2 separate regions of the Homo sapiens genome follow, and region 1 is linked to region 2. Evidence: fine-mapped expression QTL. A gene starts in region 2. The other region holds a variant in brackets. All regions are shown on one strand. Distances are from middle to middle. Region 1 overlaps KIF26B (kinesin family member 26B). Region 2 holds the start of KIF26B (kinesin family member 26B).

The links. PIP is the estimated chance that this variant, and not a neighbour inherited with it, causes the effect.
Region 1: its variant is fine-mapped to the expression of KIF26B in thyroid (GTEx, PIP above 0.99).

What each region holds. Positions count from the first base shown.
Region 1 is chr1:245,297,759-245,300,664 of GRCh38, reverse strand. The region is part of intron 2 of KIF26B (kinesin family member 26B); the gene reads right to left. Among named protein-coding and RNA genes, the nearest start is that of KIF26B-AS1, 65 kb to the right of the region's middle. The variant G/A (reference allele first, on the strand shown) is at 1,719.
Region 2 is chr1:245,153,513-245,156,418 of GRCh38, reverse strand. KIF26B (kinesin family member 26B) reads right to left here and starts at 1,434. Exons shown (of 15, transcript NM_018012.4): 1 at 932-1,434; 2 at 1-137. The coding sequence starts at 994. RefSeq lists silencers at 1-25, 1,893-2,092 and enhancers at 1,947-2,622, 2,623-2,906.

The DNA of each region.
Region 1 (2,906 bases), 140 kb before region 2:
CCCAGCTACTCAGGAGGCTGAGGCAGGAGAATCACTTGAACCCGGGAGGCAGAGGTTGCAGTGAGCCAAGATCGTGCCACCGTACTATAGCCTGGGCAACAGAGCAAGACTCTGCCTCAAAAAAAAAAAAGAAAAAAGAAAAAAAATAATTCATTTGTGCCTCTATCAATGAAGGGATGATGATTGTGTTTTAAGAGGAACTTGAACCAAAGACAGAAAACCCTTTTTAAAAAGGAGAGGTAGAAGTAATGAGTTGGCTTGACCTGGGACTCCACACCAAGTCCAAGAATTCTACTGGGTCCAATCCCCAGAGTAGAACGAAGCAGCCCAGCCAGACTCTGGCCGGGCAGCCACTTTCATGCACTGCCTGGCTGTCTATTTATATAAACACACAGGTGAAGAAATCTTAATAAAATGAACTTGCATTGAGCAAATCAATAGACTGTAATTCCCCACAAGAAGAAACTGCTATCTTTGGAGGTTCCACTCAACAAATAGTTGCTGTTAGGTCACGATCTGGGCCAAGTACTAGAAATAGAAAGATGATAAGATAAACTTATCCATACCAGGATTTCAGCTAGGCAGCAGGACACTGTGTTTTCACCAAAACGACTAGAAGTCTCTTCACAGAAGGACATTTTGCAATGTCTGCTATCCTCAGTTTCCCTGCTGGAACAATGGGAACCCAGTTCAAGACATCAACAGAGATGTTCCCAGGAAGCTCTCAGCCTCTCCTCGCAATCTCTGACTCACTTTGCCAGCCTATTAAATGGGTCGTCTGCAGACCTTAGTCATGAGAGTTACTACAGTACAAGGAGACTTATTTAGTAAATGGCCTGGTAAGTTGCTTAAAATGGTGGCTATTGCTGATATTATTTACTCGAATGGGATTTTGTTTTCCAGCTGGTACAGCAGAACGGTAGAAAGCATTCTGGATGTGGACCCCGCAGATAAGCTCTCCAGATCCAGCTCTGACCAATGTTAGCTGGGCAACCTTGGACATGCCCCCTAACTTCTCTGAGCCTCCGTTTCCTCATGAGATGGGGACACCTGCTGAACTCTGTCTCAGGACTGTTGTAAGAACTGAAAGAAGTTTTTTATGCAAAAGTAATATGAAAATTCTAAAACATTTTGCAAACTACTTAATTTTCATTACAATCTTCCTAATAATGTTTTTCTTACATTAGATATAAAATTAATTTGCCTTTCCTATGAAAATACCATCTGATAGTAGAAGGTCAGCTGGGTGAGGAAAAGCTGGCACGACATCAGAAATTATCCTTTATCCTTTTACAACCCATCATGTGGGCGACCCAAACTCAAAAAAAAAAAAAAAAAAAAAAACCCAGAATTGGATGTAAATGCAGTGTGACAGCCTTTCATTTGATCACACTTATTGGAAAAAGGATTTCATTTTCTGCACTAGACTCTGGGCAGCAAATAGGGCTGAAGGTAGTAAAGGCTGGCACCAACGCAATAATAATAAGGAACAGAATAAAAACAATGCGCCTGTTCAAACTGAGCTCTGGGAATGAGCGTTAAGCTAAAAGGCAGGCGGGAGGCAGCGAGCTGGGTTAGGAACACAAACAGGTTTAGTAATCAATCCAAAATCACAGTTGTGAAAACCACATAAAATGCCATCTGGCCTCCTGGATCGTGTAGAACATTAAGCAAAGGCAGCCTTCCAAGACACATGTTCTCATTTCTCTGAGAACAGC[G/A]CTTCTCCTTACCCAATCAACTGTGAAAGAGTCACCCAGATCCTGGTCCAGTGTTTCCGCCTTTGCCAGAATTGTTCGGAATGCTAGCGAAACAGCTCGCGGATCATGGGCAGCGGAGGCTGTTCATCCCTGATGTTTTCTGGATTTGGAGAGCTAATTGGTGACATGTGGGGTCTCTCCTGCTTTCCACACACTGCTATGACCACTGCCATCTTCCTCCTGCCTTAAAGACATATCTAAGCATAGCTTGTCAGCTATTCTGAAAACTAATTTTCTGTGTGGTATATGTAACATGAGAGTTATCAATTTAACCATTTTTAGGTGTACTATTCAAGAGCATGAAGTACATTAATGCAGTGGTTCATACATTGTTTTGCAACCATCACCAATCGCCATGCCCAGAACTTTTTCACTTTCCCAAACTGAAACTCGGCACCCATTCTCCCTCCCTCTAGCTGCTGGCAACCTCTATTCTACTTTCTTTCTCTATGATTTTGCCTGTCACATGAGCAAAACCATACAATGTTTGTGCTTTTGTGTTTAGCTTATTTCACTTGGCATAATGTCTTCAAGGTTCATGTTACCGCTATAGCACGTATCTTTCATTCTTTCTCCACGCTGAAGAATATGCCATTGTATGCATAGACCACATTTTGTTTATCTCTTCATCCATCAATGGACTCTAGAAACTAATATTTGTATAGTATGAGCCTACTCGTAGTGAATGAAGGTAAAATTTCCTTATGAGTTAGAACATTAGGGCTGGGCGCGGTGGCTCATGCCTGTCATCCCAGCACTTTGGGAGGCTGAGGCAGGCAGATCACCTGAGGTCAGGAGTTTGAGACCAGCCTGGCCAACATGGTGAGAGCCCGTCTCTACTAAAAATACAAAAATCAGCTGGGTGTGGTGGTGGGAGCCTGTAATCCCAGCTACTTTGGAGGCTGAGGCAGGAGAATCACTTGAACCTGGGAGGTGGAGGTTGCAGTGAGCCAACATCACACCACTGCACTCCAGCCTGGGCAACAGAGCAAGACTCTGTCTCAAAAACAAACAAACAAACAAACAAACAAAAACTGATGCCCATCAGGCATCAGTCTTTCAGATTCACAAGCACACACAACATCTGCCACCATGGTGTCCCATCTCCAAGCCACGAGGCTATGGGTTCAGGGAGGACAGAAACCATGT
Region 2 (2,906 bases):
CCCGAGGAGCCGAGCGCTGAGCCCGCGCCCTCAGGAGTGGGCCGGCTGCCGGCGCGCGACTCCTCGTATGCTTTCCGGTACCAGCTTTCCGGGGAGAAGGGCGCTGCGGGCTTGGTGGGCGAGCAGACTTCATTCACCTGCGGGGAAGACACGCCGGTGTCAGGGGCTGCAAGGCGGCGGGCTGCAGCGCCCAGGAGCTGGGTCATACGTGCGCCACCAAGTACCCGCTCGAACCGCCCACGGGAGTCGGTTGGGGACCTCTCCAAGCCCTGCGGCCAAATTGCCCTCCGTCTGTCTCGTTAATTGTCCTTAAGTGAGTCCCCACCGCCCAGGTGACCCCTGCGCTGGTCCCCGGTGGCCTCCTCCTGGGGTCAGGAAGGGGACTCGCTCGGGGCCGTTTCCACGGCTTCTGCAAGGCGGGGGGGATCCATAGGTTCAGCGCCCCACGCTTTTGAAGCCGGCACCTATCCCAGCAAGATCCCGGGAACAAAATCCTGGAAGACCCTATGGGGGGGGTAGGGGGAGGGCTGTGATTTCAGGATTTTTATTCATACGGGGTCCAACTCTCCGGATCCTGCAGGTAAACGAGAGGCTCTCACGGCTCCAGCTAAACGATCCGAGGTACTGCCCAGCATTCATGGGAAACCCTCCCCTTCGGCTTCACTCTGCCTAGAAGTGCAGGAATGCGGCAAAAGTTACGGGTGCGTGGAAAGGAAGGAACGAGAGGGCTGAAAAAATTCCGAGAGCGAGGCGAGCGTGCGGGCGTCCCCGCGGCCGACCCGCCTCCGCGCACTCACAACCCCGCCAGCCCCGGGGGCGCCTCTGCAGCGGGGGAGAGCTCGGGGCCGGGGCCGCACGATCCCGGGGAAAGGGGGACCTCCGCCGAGATGGGTCTGGTAACGCGTCTCCGCGTCGTACCGTCACAACTTACCCCGTATTTCTTGCCCCTGGTGGAGACCGCAAGCCTCTCTTTATTCCCAGCTACCGAATTCATGGTGGCTTTTCCAGAGGAGAGTATCTAAAGGTTCCACCGACGCTACATCCAGAAGGTCCTCCAACCCAGAAGCGTCCCCCGGCTGCAGGGGGCTGGCTCTCAGCCCTCAGGGCAAGGTTTCTTCAGCGGTGGGGTGGGAGGGAATGAAAGCAAATGGATCCCACAAGTAATAGCACCAATTTGCAGAAAGGGTTGGGGTCGCTGGTTTATTCTTCTCTTCAAAGCATGCTTTTCCTCGTCCCCTTCTGCCTCTTCCAGCCGCACGTCCTCTTGTCACGGCCACATCCACAGAACTGGCATTTTCTTCAGCCAAGTCAGTCCGTGCTCCCCCACGAGGAAAGCGAGGGATACAATCAGGGCTCGCGGCCGCTGCCGGGAAGGTGGGAGAGCCGAGCCGAGTCAGCTGTGGGAACTTGTCTCCTTCACCGAGCTTGGTAACTGAGTTCAAAGAAATTCTCCCAAAATATAAAGATCCAGACTCGGGGAGGAGCCTCGGCGTGTCGCCGAGCCAATATCCGCCGGCCCGTTTCGCCTGACAGTTGCGCGAGGGCCGGGAGAGGGGCGGCTCCGCGTGGCCCGGGAGCGGTCGGCGGTCACAGCGCGCGTGTGCGCCCGGGCGCAGCGCGGAGGAGCCTCGGGAACCTGCCGCCCTCGCCGCGCCGGCCGGGATCCATTTTATGTGGCGGCGCTCGTGCCTGACATTGCGAGGCCTGGAGCCGGGCTGGGGCTGGGGGCGGGGGATCGTCGATCTCGCCGCGTGCGGGGAAGTTCCTGGCGCGCGGCCCGGGCCCGGGGCTCTAATGAAACGCCGCTGCGCGAGCCTGGAGCCCGGGGGCCGCGCGAGCGAGCGTGGCTGGACGGAAATGCGGTGCCCCAGCCTCCCCCGCCCCCAAGTTCTTTCTCTTCCTGACAAGGCTTGCAGGTCTGTCTGTGAAACGCCGTGCAAAAGGGATTGAGTCACAAACAAGTCCACAAACATGCCGGGTCCTCCCCCCGCCCTTTGTTCTCGGAGAGCTGCCGGGCAAACCTTTTCTGGAATTGCCCTACCGACCCCGGGCCGGCCGGGGGGCCACCCTCCCCGACCGCAGCCGCAGGACTAGGGCCCTTGGTCCCCCGCCCGCCCGAGCCCCGGTCTGTGATGGACTAAGCCGCCCGGGGCTGGGACAGGTGAGCCTGGTGACCCAGCGGGCCGCTGCCGGGCAGGGGAAACTGAGGGCTTCGCCGCGCTGCACGCGGACGACTCTGGCCTGGAGAGGGGGTGTGGCGCGAGCTGGCCTTGGCCTCTCCTTGCGTGGGATCGGGCCCCTCGCCCCCCGCCGCCCGTTTCTTCCTGCGCCTGGGCCCCGCGGGGTCTCCGGAGCACCCCGTCATCGCTCCCTCTCCGATCGCCCCCCGCCCCAGTCCCCCGGCGCAGCGCCCAGGAGCGCAGGAAGCCGGCGTATGCCAGGCTCCACACGTGGCTGCTCTGGGGTGTCATTTTTCATTTCACGGGAGGACATTTCTTCTGGTGAGCCAGCAGGTCTGTTTTGTTGTGACCTTTAATTAACACCCCGCGAGACGCCTCTGGAAGGACTGGCCGGGCGCAGGGATCACGTGGGGTGTAACGGCATCTCCGCGCCCGCGGGGAGACCCAGCCCGGGGGTGGGCGAGGGCGCGAAGGACGTTCAGGGCTTTCTGGTCGCTGACTTCCTTCTGAGCTGTGGACGACGCAGGAGGGGGCAAGAAGACAAAGGTTCGGGGTTCTGGAAGCCTGGGGCCACGCCCCCACTCTGCCTTCCTCGGGGACAATTTCTTCTGTGCCTCCCGTGCTCTGCCCCACTCCTCCCCGCTCCAGCTCCTGCGCGGGAATATTTCACAGCCACCAAAGCGAGGTAAAAAGGTCAAAAGGAAGATGGCAAGAACAGAGTGGACG